3 linked regions of the Homo sapiens genome follow. The protein of the gene in region 2 purifies or fractionates together with the protein of the main gene of each other region. This does not show direct contact. Each region holds a gene or a part of one and is shown on either strand. Other genes may lie near its edges. The genes, in order: SDF4, USP12 and THUMPD3.

The links.
Region 1: the proteins of USP12 (region 2) and SDF4 purify together in Homo sapiens (affinity purification with mass spectrometry; one large-scale study listed by BioGRID and IntAct). This does not show direct contact.
Region 3: the proteins of USP12 (region 2) and THUMPD3 purify together in Homo sapiens (co-immunoprecipitation; one large-scale study listed by IntAct). This does not show direct contact.

Annotation. Positions count from the first base shown.
Region 1 is NC_000001.11:1,221,999-1,225,649, forward strand, and holds part of SDF4 (45 kDa calcium-binding protein isoform 2 precursor), read right to left. Parts: intron 1,971-3,651; coding exon 1,834-1,970; intron 1,360-1,833; coding exon 1,246-1,359; intron 1-1,245. UniProt on the Homo sapiens protein: May regulate calcium-dependent activities in the endoplasmic reticulum lumen or post-ER compartment. Isoform 5 may be involved in the exocytosis of zymogens by pancreatic acini.
Region 2 is NC_000013.11:27,165,261-27,168,911, reverse strand, and holds part of USP12 (ubiquitin carboxyl-terminal hydrolase 12), read left to right. Parts: intron 1-3,651. UniProt on the Homo sapiens protein: Deubiquitinating enzyme that plays various roles in the regulation of the immune response and inflammation.
Region 3 is NC_000003.12:9,369,481-9,373,131, reverse strand, and holds part of THUMPD3 (tRNA (guanine(6)-N(2))-methyltransferase THUMP3), read right to left. Parts: intron 2,073-3,651; coding exon 1,596-2,072; intron 1-1,595. UniProt on the Homo sapiens protein: Catalytic subunit of the THUMPD3-TRM112 methyltransferase complex, that specifically mediates the S-adenosyl-L-methionine-dependent N(2)-methylation of guanosine nucleotide at position 6 (m2G6) in tRNAs.

The sequences.
Region 1 (3,651 bases), on a different chromosome or scaffold from region 2:
TGTGTTACTGATAAGTTAAGCAGGCACAAAAAATAAAGGTGTAAGATACACCCAGCCTGCCAGGAGCAGCCCCGTATCACGTGACCAGTCCCGTGGGCGACACGGGCGCCCTGCAGGGCAGCAGAGAACCCACCCCAGGATGCCGGGCAGCGACGGAGCAGGCGACTCTGCACGTTCTCCTCAAAGCCCCAAACCAGACCACGGGCATGACCGGGAAGGGCACACGGAGCCCCAGGGTGGCAGCAACGCCACGGTACCCGCTCAGCTGTGCCTCACAACTGGGCCAGCAGGGGCTTCTGCCTGGACGGCTCTCCCAGACCTGGCCCCGTGCAGGGTGGCCCGGCTCTCCCCTCACCTGGCCTTAGCCCGGGTGCCGGGCCCCACCCGGCCCCACCCTCTTCACGCAGAGGCACCAGCTTGGACCCGCCCAGGGCTGAGGCTGCCCTGCTGGCCAACGGCCACACCCCAGACCCAAGGAAGAGCCTCTCCCTGGGACCTGACCGCTCTCTGGTGACCACCTGACGGCCACACAGATGTCTCCAGCAGACCCAGGCCTCAGGGCCAGGCCCTCAGGCACAGGCTGTGCCCTCTCCCCAGGAAACTCTGCCTCACGTGGCCTTCAGAGTACGGGGCAGGCCCCAACCCAGACTCACAGCCTCAGATTCTCTGCAGGACCTAACTGAGTAACGGCCGTGAAGGTGCCGTGACCAGCAGAGCTGAAAGCTGCCCAGGCACAGCTCACACGCTCCCCACCGGACTCCTGGGCGGCGCCTAGGTCAGCAACGGCTTCACCCACTTCCCTCCTGACAGCCACCACCAACCAGGTTGGGCCATGCTGTTAAGACGAACACGTGTGCACACAGCGGGTGTGAGGGCGCACTCACCTGCATGTACTCACGAGCCTACATGAACAGCTACCTGGATGTACTCACAAGCACACGCACAGCGCACTCGTACACACGACACGCACACACGTACAAGCACATGCACAGTGCACTCGTACACACGACACGCATACACATGTACTCACGAGCACACACACAGCACACGTACACACAACATGCACACACGTACTCACGAGCACGCGCACAGCACACTCGTACACACGGCACGCACACACGTACTCACGAGCACACGCACGGCACACTCATACACGACACACACGGCACACTCATGTACACACAACACACGCGCGCACACACAGGATGCCTGAGACCGGTGGCGGGAGCCTGGCTGAGCACTCACTTTCCTCATCCACTTTGAGTTCCTCGTTGAGCCTGATGGCGTCGGCAACCTCCTTCTCGCTATGGCCTTTACTCGCCAAAAACTTCACCTTATACTCGTCCCAAGACACGTGACCTGGAAGAGCAGATCACACCTGTCAGGGCCTCTGATACTGAGCTGAACTTCCTTCTCAACTGAGATGGGGTCTTGCTCTGCTGCCCAGGCTGGAAGCGGCAGGATGCCAGCGTCTGGAGCCCCAGGGCCCCGGCCAGCACCCCACACCCGTTTCCTCACCTGTGAGGCCAGCCGGCAACGTCTGTGCCTCGGGGCCACCAAGAGGCATAGACACCACCAGATGAAGGCCCCGAAGACATAAGAGGCGCCCTCCATGGGCCACGCCCAGTGCTTGGCACACACACCTCTGTCACCAGGATTCTGGCATCATGAACCCAGCTTCCGTGCACCCCACCACACCTCGGGGTCTCCGGCTGACACTTCCCCACCGCCCGTCCCTCAGACAGGGCCTGTCTGCCCTCCAGGCACCAGGCAAGGCCCATGGCCCTGCCCGCCCCGCCCACCGCCCCACCCACCCCGGCCCAGCCACAGTACCGTCCCCGTCAGGGTCCACGGCGCGGAAGTGTGTCTTGCTCTCCTCCATGGCCTCCTGGAAGTGCTCGGCCGTCTTCTCCATGATCCAGCGCTGCATCTCCTTGGCACTGATCTTCCGGTCAGTGTTCACATCCACCCTGCAAGACAGCAAATGGGCAGGTGGCCGTCAGACTGGGCCCCCAGGACCCCGAACAGCCAGACGGATGCCGCCGGCCCAGGACTCCATGGCTGCGTGAACCTGCCACCAACAGCGACAGGCTCCACCAGGCAACGCGAAAAGCGTCCGGGACGTGGGGCTTGTGGGGTGCCGGGCCACGCCAGAGACACTGGGGAAGGTGGATGCCACGGTCCCCTCCCCGGGGAAACACATGGACCCTCCCCCTCTGTCACACAGAATCACCACCAGACCCCACTCTCCAACCACAGCTTCCAAAAGTCACACTCTTCACGTTTTATTTTATTTTTTGAGATGGAGTCTCACTCTGTCACCCAGGCTGGAGTGTGGTGGCGCAATCTTTGCTCACTGCAACCTCCGCCTCCCGGGTTCAAGCGATTCTACTGCCTCAGCCTCCCGAGTAGCTGGGATTACAGGGGTGCACCACCACGCCTGGCTAATTTTTGTATTTTTAACAGAAATACGGTTTCACCATGTTGGGCAGGCTAGTCTCAAACTCCTGACCTCAAATGATCCACCCACCTCAGCCTCCCAACGTGCTAGGATTACAGGTGTGGCCACTGGGCCCGGCCCATGTTTTATTTTCGATGCTTCAGGTATGGCTACACAAAAACCTTCATATAGGCAGGACGCAGTGGCCACACCTATAATCCCAGCCCTTTGGGAGGCTAAGACAGGTGGATCACTTAAGCCCAGAAGTTCAAGACCAGCTTGGGCAACATAGGGAGACCCCACCTCTACAAAAACAATTACGAAAATTCGCCAGGCGCGGTGGCGTGCACCTGTGGTTTCAGCTACTCAAGAGGCTGAGGTGGGAGGCCTCCCGAACCTGGAATGCGAAGGTTGCAGTGAACTGTGATCACACCACTGCACTCCAGCCTGGGCGGCATACCGAGACCCTGACTCAAAACAAGACAAAACAAAATCCTTCATATAAATTTAAGTTGTGAGATTTAGGAAGAAGACCGTGTGGGGACTTAACATTGTGTGCAAGGATGGAAGAGACCACAGACTTGGGGGATAGGGACACAGACTGGGGACACGGGGCCAGCGCAGGCCAGGTCAGGAGGCCACAGGCCCCAGGACAGGTCACTCCCGTCCCAGCTTCAGAGCTCGGCTTCACCATTATGTCTTTGTGGAAGCCACAGGCTCCTACCCCTGCTGCAGCCGCCCGTGTCCTGAGCTCACCTGTTGGAAACTTAACCCCCAGGGCAACAGCACTGGGAGGCAGGGCTTCCAGAGGTGCGAGGTCTTGAGACCCCGGCTGGTGCGTTTGCCGGAGGCATCCCCGAGAGTAGGGTGCCCTGGCCCCTTGCCTCTATGCTCCGCTCAGGGGCAGCCGCGGCCACGTTATGAGGTGGCAAGCAGGCCCTCGTCAGGCAGGTGTGGCCTCTGGGACCTGGGCCAGGCAAGCTTCGAGGGTGCACACACCGCAGGCACGGCTCAGAAGCACTGGGCAGAGATCCTCATGGAAGAAGGCCAGGCTGCCGCTCACACGCGCCCCTCCCTCAGCAGCCGCAGCAGCCCAGAGGTGGACGGGCCTGGGAGGCACCCTCAGCTCCACAGTCCCCAAAACACACCGGCTGGGGACGGGGCCACCCGGGTGGCCATGTGGCAGGTGGGGCACCTGGTGGGTCTCACGT
Region 2 (3,651 bases):
AAATTTTATTCTATAAGTACTGAAGTGTACATAATTTTTTCATTTGTCAAAATAACGTACCTGGGCAAATCTGCAATACCTTAATTGGGTTAAGTAACTGTTAAAAACAATTCTCTTCAGCTGTGTCTTATTTTAGATCACTAGTGTTGTGCTTACATGTGAAAATTAGTAAAACTTGTTTTTCATAAGTTAGTATTATAGCCTGAACCAAATGAGTGATTATGTTTAGATTGCAGTGAGTACATTTTCAAGGGTACCTCTTGAAATACCTGTTTTTAATTTGTCTATGAAATAATACATTTTCAGTATCACATAGTGTTTATTTTGCCTTTGAAGTAGTTTCAGACTTCAGGGCCTGGCACGGAGTACCTGCCTACCTGATATTTAATATTATACTTAATAAGTGTGAAATAACGGGAAAAGTGACAGAATACATGTAGAGAGGCTGTGTTTTGCAGTTGAGGTGGCTAATCCGGGTGGTCCGTCATGGGCATGCAGTAGTGGTCAGGACAGCCCCTGCTTTGGAGCTGGCACTACTTACTGTTAGCTCCATAAATGTTAGCTCTGCCTCTGATCATTATTGTCTCTTCCTGTTTGGGTTGTAGGAGTCATGGTTAGGAAGGCGTTGTTGGGAGGGGGACCAGACAACGGAGAAGTTGTTGGTGCAGGAGGTGGGTAGAGTTAGATCATGGGGTGGCACTGGCCTGGCTGCTTGCCCACCCTCGGTTACAAGGGCATGAGATTAGATCCATTAGAACATGGTGGTAATGAGGCCAAAGCTGGTAAAGGTAGGTGCTAGGAGAGTCCCACGGGCTTTTCTTCTGAGAAAGCCTGTGCCTAGCACAGCACCCTGAGCATGGTAAACTTTACTTGCTGAAGAAAGGCACAGGTGAAACTGGCTGTCTTTTCTTTTTTGTTTGCTCTGTTTTAATAACACGATTTTTAAAAACATAAATTAGAAAGGACATACATGGAAAATGTTTGCCTTTTCTTACTGCTCAGTCTCACTGGGATCCAGGTAAGGGTATGTGTGGTCAGTGCAATTTATCCTTACTACTGAAAAAAAGGAAAGCTGGGGCAAACCTCAGAGCCCATGCGTTGTTGGGAATGTGTGTGTGTGAAAGTCTCCTCTTCATATAACAAGAATATTATATTAAATAATGAAATTTCTTTTTCCTTCTCAAGAAATAGGGTGGATGTAGTTCTTTTATTAATAAAATATTTATTTGTAAATTAATATTTTATTAGTAAAATAGTACTTCTATGATAGGAGCATTCAAATGTGAGTTGCCATTGTTTTACTTATCTAATTTTGCTGTGTTAATTTAAGAAGGGAACAAAACTTAAGCTTCTTAAGCCTTTAAAAAAAATAAGAAAACCTCAAAAATAAGGAATCTTCTATTACATAAATGTTTGGTCAAAGGAATGTTTGAGCTTGGTGGAGAGAGAACATTTAGAAGAAGTATTAATAGAAGTTTTATTTAAGCCCACTCATCTTTTGAATTTGTCTAAAATACATTTTGGACATTAAAAATGATACATTCTCATAGAAAATCTGGAAAATATAAAAACTCCAAGAAAGCAAAAGGAAGGTCAATTTTTACCTCCCAGAGGATATGTTATTTATTTATTTATTTTATTTTTTTTTTGAGACGGAGTTTCACTCTTGTTGCCCAGGCTGGAGTGCAATGCTGCAATCTTGGCTCACCGCAACCTCCACCTCCCAGGTTCAAGTGATTCCCCTGCCTCAGCCTCCCGAGTAGCTGGGATTACAGGCATGTGCCACCACGCCCAGCTAATTTTTGTATTTTTAGTAGAGATGGGGTTTCTCCATGTTGGTCAGGCTGGCCAGAGCATATTTTATTTAACTTTTTAAAAAACTTGAGTTGTATTCCCTAGATATAGTTTTACACTGTTTACCCACGAATGATTATCATGTTATCATTATCATCATTCATGCCCATCCTAAAATTTGCCCAATTTTAGGATGAACATGAGTTTAATGTTATAAAATGATGAGGTGGTGAGATGAGCCCAATAAAGCATAGTGGTAGGGTACTAGGGCGTTGACAGGTTATATGTTTAATGATTATTAGAGGGTAAAGTGATATAGTTAGCAGAAATGGAATTTTATAAGAGGTGGTTTATTCTAATCTTAGGCACTTAGTTATCACAAAGATAAGACTTGTTATGATCTGAAATTTTTAATATGCTTGAAAACTCTAGTTTTAAATACCATATTCAATTATGTGGCATGTGTATAAATATTATGGTCTTATTTTATATCATATGGCTTTGCTTACCTTCTGGTGACTTTCTCTTTCCACCTTTTGCTAATAAGTGGCTAATAGGTCTCAAAGTAGGTTAATTATCTGCCCTACCATGATCCATGTTGGCCAGTTGCAGCGAGATGATGTCACATTTCTTGTTGCCTTATTTGATTCTAGACTTTTGACCAAGTCCCCCCAAACTGAGTCTGCCTCCTTTTTGTCATTTACCAAATTCCTTTCTTCCTGCCTTTAAACTCATATTTATTCTAGCTCTTCTGAAACTTTTATTGTCTCAGGAAGTATCTTTTAAGCATTTGTATACTTTGTATAATTCCTTTCCAGAAACCTTTTTAGATTTAAATAATCTAATTTTGTTTTGGTTTCTCTTTTAGCAGCTCTATTCCAGAAACTTAATATGGTATTTTGTTATGTATTTGACAGCATGGTATAATGAAAAGAGCAGTTGGACCAGAAGGTAAATTCTAGTCCAGATTTTGACATTTAGATGTGTATATATGGGAAAGTTTCTTAAAACTTCGAGTTAATTTTTCTCATCTGTGAAATAAAGGGATTGGACTAGATACTCTTTAATAGATATTCCTTATATGCTTGTCTCCTTCTAGGTCTAAAATTCTGATCCTTTAGTAGTTTATAAATGATTATTGGTATCATTTTCATCATTTTAGGAGCTCTTTTTTAAAAAATTATTATTATTTTTTTTGCTCTGTAGCCCATTTCTAGAACATCTTGGGAGTTCTAATTATGTTTTAGATAACATAAAAAGCATAGAATCAGACATAATTAAGCAAGAATTTCACTTAGTTCCCTAGTTTTTACAGTCTAAATACATTTTTCTTTCTTTAAAACTGGAGGTTACTGATACCACCATTTTCGTCACCAACAGCCTAATAATTCACAAAGCTATTTGCTAATTTTTGACACTTTTTTCTTTGCCAGTACCATTAAGGGATTTGAATTTTTTTGAGGTTCCATGTTTATTTCTTTAGTTATGAGTATGACCTTGGACAAGTTACTTCTCTGTACCTGTAAAGTGAGAGTAAAATAACATCTAGTTCATAGGGTTGTTGACTAGTACCTGGCCCATGGTAATCACTGTGTCATGTTGGCTGTTACTGCCCTTTAACATGATTTGCTCCCCTCCCTGTGGTAAAAAGTATTCATTGGCACTACTAATTAATCTGTTAGCTCAACATATACTAACCAAAATGGAAATTTGTTTTGTGAAATACAATTGTCAGTTCCTTTTCATTATAAGAAACGTTAGTTTATTAGTAGTATATACCCCTGAGAAAGCACTAATTTATTTTGAAATTGAGTGGATTAATTCATAATATGAAAGCTGAGAATGTAGATTGTCTTC
Region 3 (3,651 bases), on a different chromosome or scaffold from region 2:
CTGGTTAACCTATTCATTTTATTTTTTAAAATATTTATTTTATTTTTAGTGGAGACAGGGTCTCACTATTTTGCCCAGGCTGGTCTCAAATTCTTGGGCTCAAGCGATCTGCCTGCCAAGGCCTCCCAAAGTACTGGAATTACAGGTGTGAGCCACGTATTCATTTGCAAGGCAGTGTATGAGGAAAAAAAGGAATGGGGAATTAGACTCCTGATTTGACATGCACAAAAAAGTTAGAATCAGTGACTTGCCCCAGATTCAAGTGTCCCAAAAGCAACGGAAATTGACTCTTTGGTAAATATATCAGCTGCTAGAGATGTTTTAAGGTGTCAGAGACTTAAATACTTTAGTTCCTATGGTTCACATGTCAATCACCCAGATAAAAGAGGATTAAGACCAAGGAAAGTAAATATACTAAAATGAGGTACCTGGCTTTGGAAATCTAGCAGAATTTAAGAAAGAGGAGAGCTGACTCTAGGATGAGTATTAGCAATGATGTCCTGGTTTGAGAAGGTCAGGGTTTGTTTAAAAAATGCACTTTTTTTTTTTTTGGAGATGGAGTCTTGCTCTGTCACCCACGCTGAAGTGCAGTGGCATGATCTTGGCTCACTGCAACCTCCACCTCCCTGGTTCAAGTGATTCTCCTGCCTCAGCCTCCCCAGTAGCTGGGACCACAGGAGTGTGCCATCATGACGGGCCAATTTTTGTATTTTTAGTAGAGACAGGGTTTCACCATATTGGCCACGCTGGTCTCAAATTCCTGACCTCAAGTGATCCACCTGCCTCGGCCTCCCTCCCAAAGTGCTGGGATTACAGGCGTGAGCCACTGCGCCCAGCCTTATTTTATTTTTTCAGTAGCAAAGCTCTGCAACCAAGACACACAAAAACAAAATAACTATTTTAATTCTGGTTGAATTTTATAATATGAAAGTCCATATAATATAGTAAAAGAGTAGTCTATTAGAAATCAGGCCAGGTGCAGCTATAATCCCAGCACTTTGGGAGGCCAAGACAGGCAGATCACTACAGGAGTTTGAGACCAGCCTGGCCAACAGGGTGAAACCCCATGTCTATTAAAAAATACAAAAATTAGCCAGGTGTGGTGGCATGTGCCTGTAGCCCCAGCTACTTGGGAGGCTGAGCACAAGAATCACTTGAACCAGGAAGGTGGAGGCTGCAGTGAGCTGAGATCGTACCACTGCACTCTAGCCTGGGTGACAGAGCAAGACTCTGTCTCGAAAAAGAAAAAGAAAACAGACAACTCAACCTTGATGGCTTCCATCTATGGAGCACTTAGTGTATGCAAGGTATTGCACCAAATATTTTAAATGTACCTCATTTATCCTTCAGGATAACCTTAAAGGTACATAATATTATTGGCTCCATTTGAAACAGAGGCTCAGAGACTATCTAGTCCAAAGTTATACAGTTGTGGAGTTAAAATTTGGATCTAAATCTGTCTCCATAGCCTATGCTCTTCTTAACCACACCCTACTATTTCCTCAGTTTAATTGTGCATAACATTGGGTTAGTCTGGAAATTCTACAAATCTGTGACAGCATTCTTCAATCACCACAGTCAGAGCCTATACCTACCTCCACATCAAAGTTGGTCATGTCGGCCTTCCACTTAAAATAATCTTGAACAGCACCCCCAAAATCTCTTGCAGCCTCATTTGAGGTAAAGCAATGTTTCTCTCCTGCCCTGTTGCATGTGACTCTAAACTTCAGCACTTGAGGCTCAGTTTCTTCTTTTGAGCTTTCATCAGTCTCATCTTTGCAAGATGCCAAATCATCACCTATTAATGTTGATACATCCTCTTTGATGGCTGGATTTTCATAATAATCTAAGATATGAGAATCTAAAGCATGGCTAGTGAACTCTTTTTTAACATTTCTCTGATCGATTTTGACTTCTTGTCCATTATTAATCTTCTCTTTACTTGAATTCTGATTTATCTTTTTGCGCTTTGCTTTTTTCTTTTTAAAACTGGCATTAATTTTCCACACTTTTAAGGGGTTTGACCATGGGAGTTTTCCAGCCAAGTCTTCAAAATCCTTTAGAACTTCTTCCTGTAAAGGACAGAGAAAGAAATTCATTCATTTCTCACCACTATAATCAAACAAATAAACCTCTACTTTGCTTATGGACAGTTGGTATCCGTGGGGGACACTGGTTCCAGGACCGCCAAAGACACCAAAACCCAAAGATGCTCAAAAGTCCCTCATATAAAATGGTATAGTGTCTACATATGACCTACACACATCCTCTCAAGAGTAACTTAAATCATCTCTATCTTACCTATGATACCTGATACAATGTAAATGCTATGGAAATAGTTGTTATACTGTATTGTTTGGGAAATAATGACAAGAAAAAAAGTCTGGGCTGGATATGGTGGCTCATGCCTGTAATCCCAGCACTTTAGGAAGCTGAAGCAAGTGGATCACTTGAACTTAGGAGTTTGAGACCAGACTGGGCAACATGGCAAAACTCTGTCTCCACAAAAAAATACAAAAATTAACTGGGCATGGTGGCACGTGCCTGTAGTCCCAGCTACTCAGGAAGCTGAGATGGGAGGACTGCTTGAGCCTGGGAGGTCAAGGCTCCAATGAGCTATGATCACGCCAATGCACTCCAGCTTAGACAACAGAGCAAGATCTTGTCTAAAAAAATAAATCTTTTACAAAAGAGAATGAACACTGACTACAATATTCTTAAGGAAAGAAAGCCTAACTCCAAATTTTATACCCAAACTATCAGCCAAATATAAAGGTGAAAGACAAACATTTCTGAACTCATGCCATTCAACAGATACAAATTATAACAAAAGGACAAATAATGTGCCTATAATCTATTTAATTATATCACTAAAATGAAAACAAGTGTAGGGATTGTGATTATAAAGCAGAAGGTAAATGTTACAAACTGGCATGTAAATGGGCATACTGATACCCTCATCTCTTACACCCAGAGGTCAAAGGATAGAAGTTAAAGCTGATAAATAAAATGTAAGTATATTTAAAAGTTTAAGGGTGAACACTAAGAAAAATAACTGAAAAATAAAGGAAAAAAGTATAAATATGCCAATTTCATCATTGCTTTTAGCAGGGATTCAAAAAATACCGTGTATATATGGTAGATAAGGTAGATAATATCAAATTGTAGTTATAAAGGTAACAGCTAGAACACACACACATAAACCTTCCAAACTATTAGAAAACACAGGCATATGAAAAAAGTAAAGACATAATGTAAAGATTTTTCAAATTAAGAAAAAACAAAAAGTATGAGCATGACAAAACTAAGACTAAACAGTTGTCATTATCAATAAGTATCAATGGGATAAACACAAAGATGACACTCAGTTTGAATATGTACAAGAATTTACATAGTGTATTTGTTGCACCACTGTAATAGCAAAAGAATGTGAAAAACCCTCATGCCCTAAAATGGGACTGGTTAAATTATTATACAGCCAAACAATGGAGTATACGCAGCCAATTCCAGCAATGATACTGCCAGGATCTCCAACATATAGGTTGAACATTCCTAATCTCAAAGTCCAAAATCCAAAACCTAAAATTTTTTTGAAGTGCCAACATGATGCCACACAGGTAGCTGAGATAGTGACACCTTTGCTTTCTGATG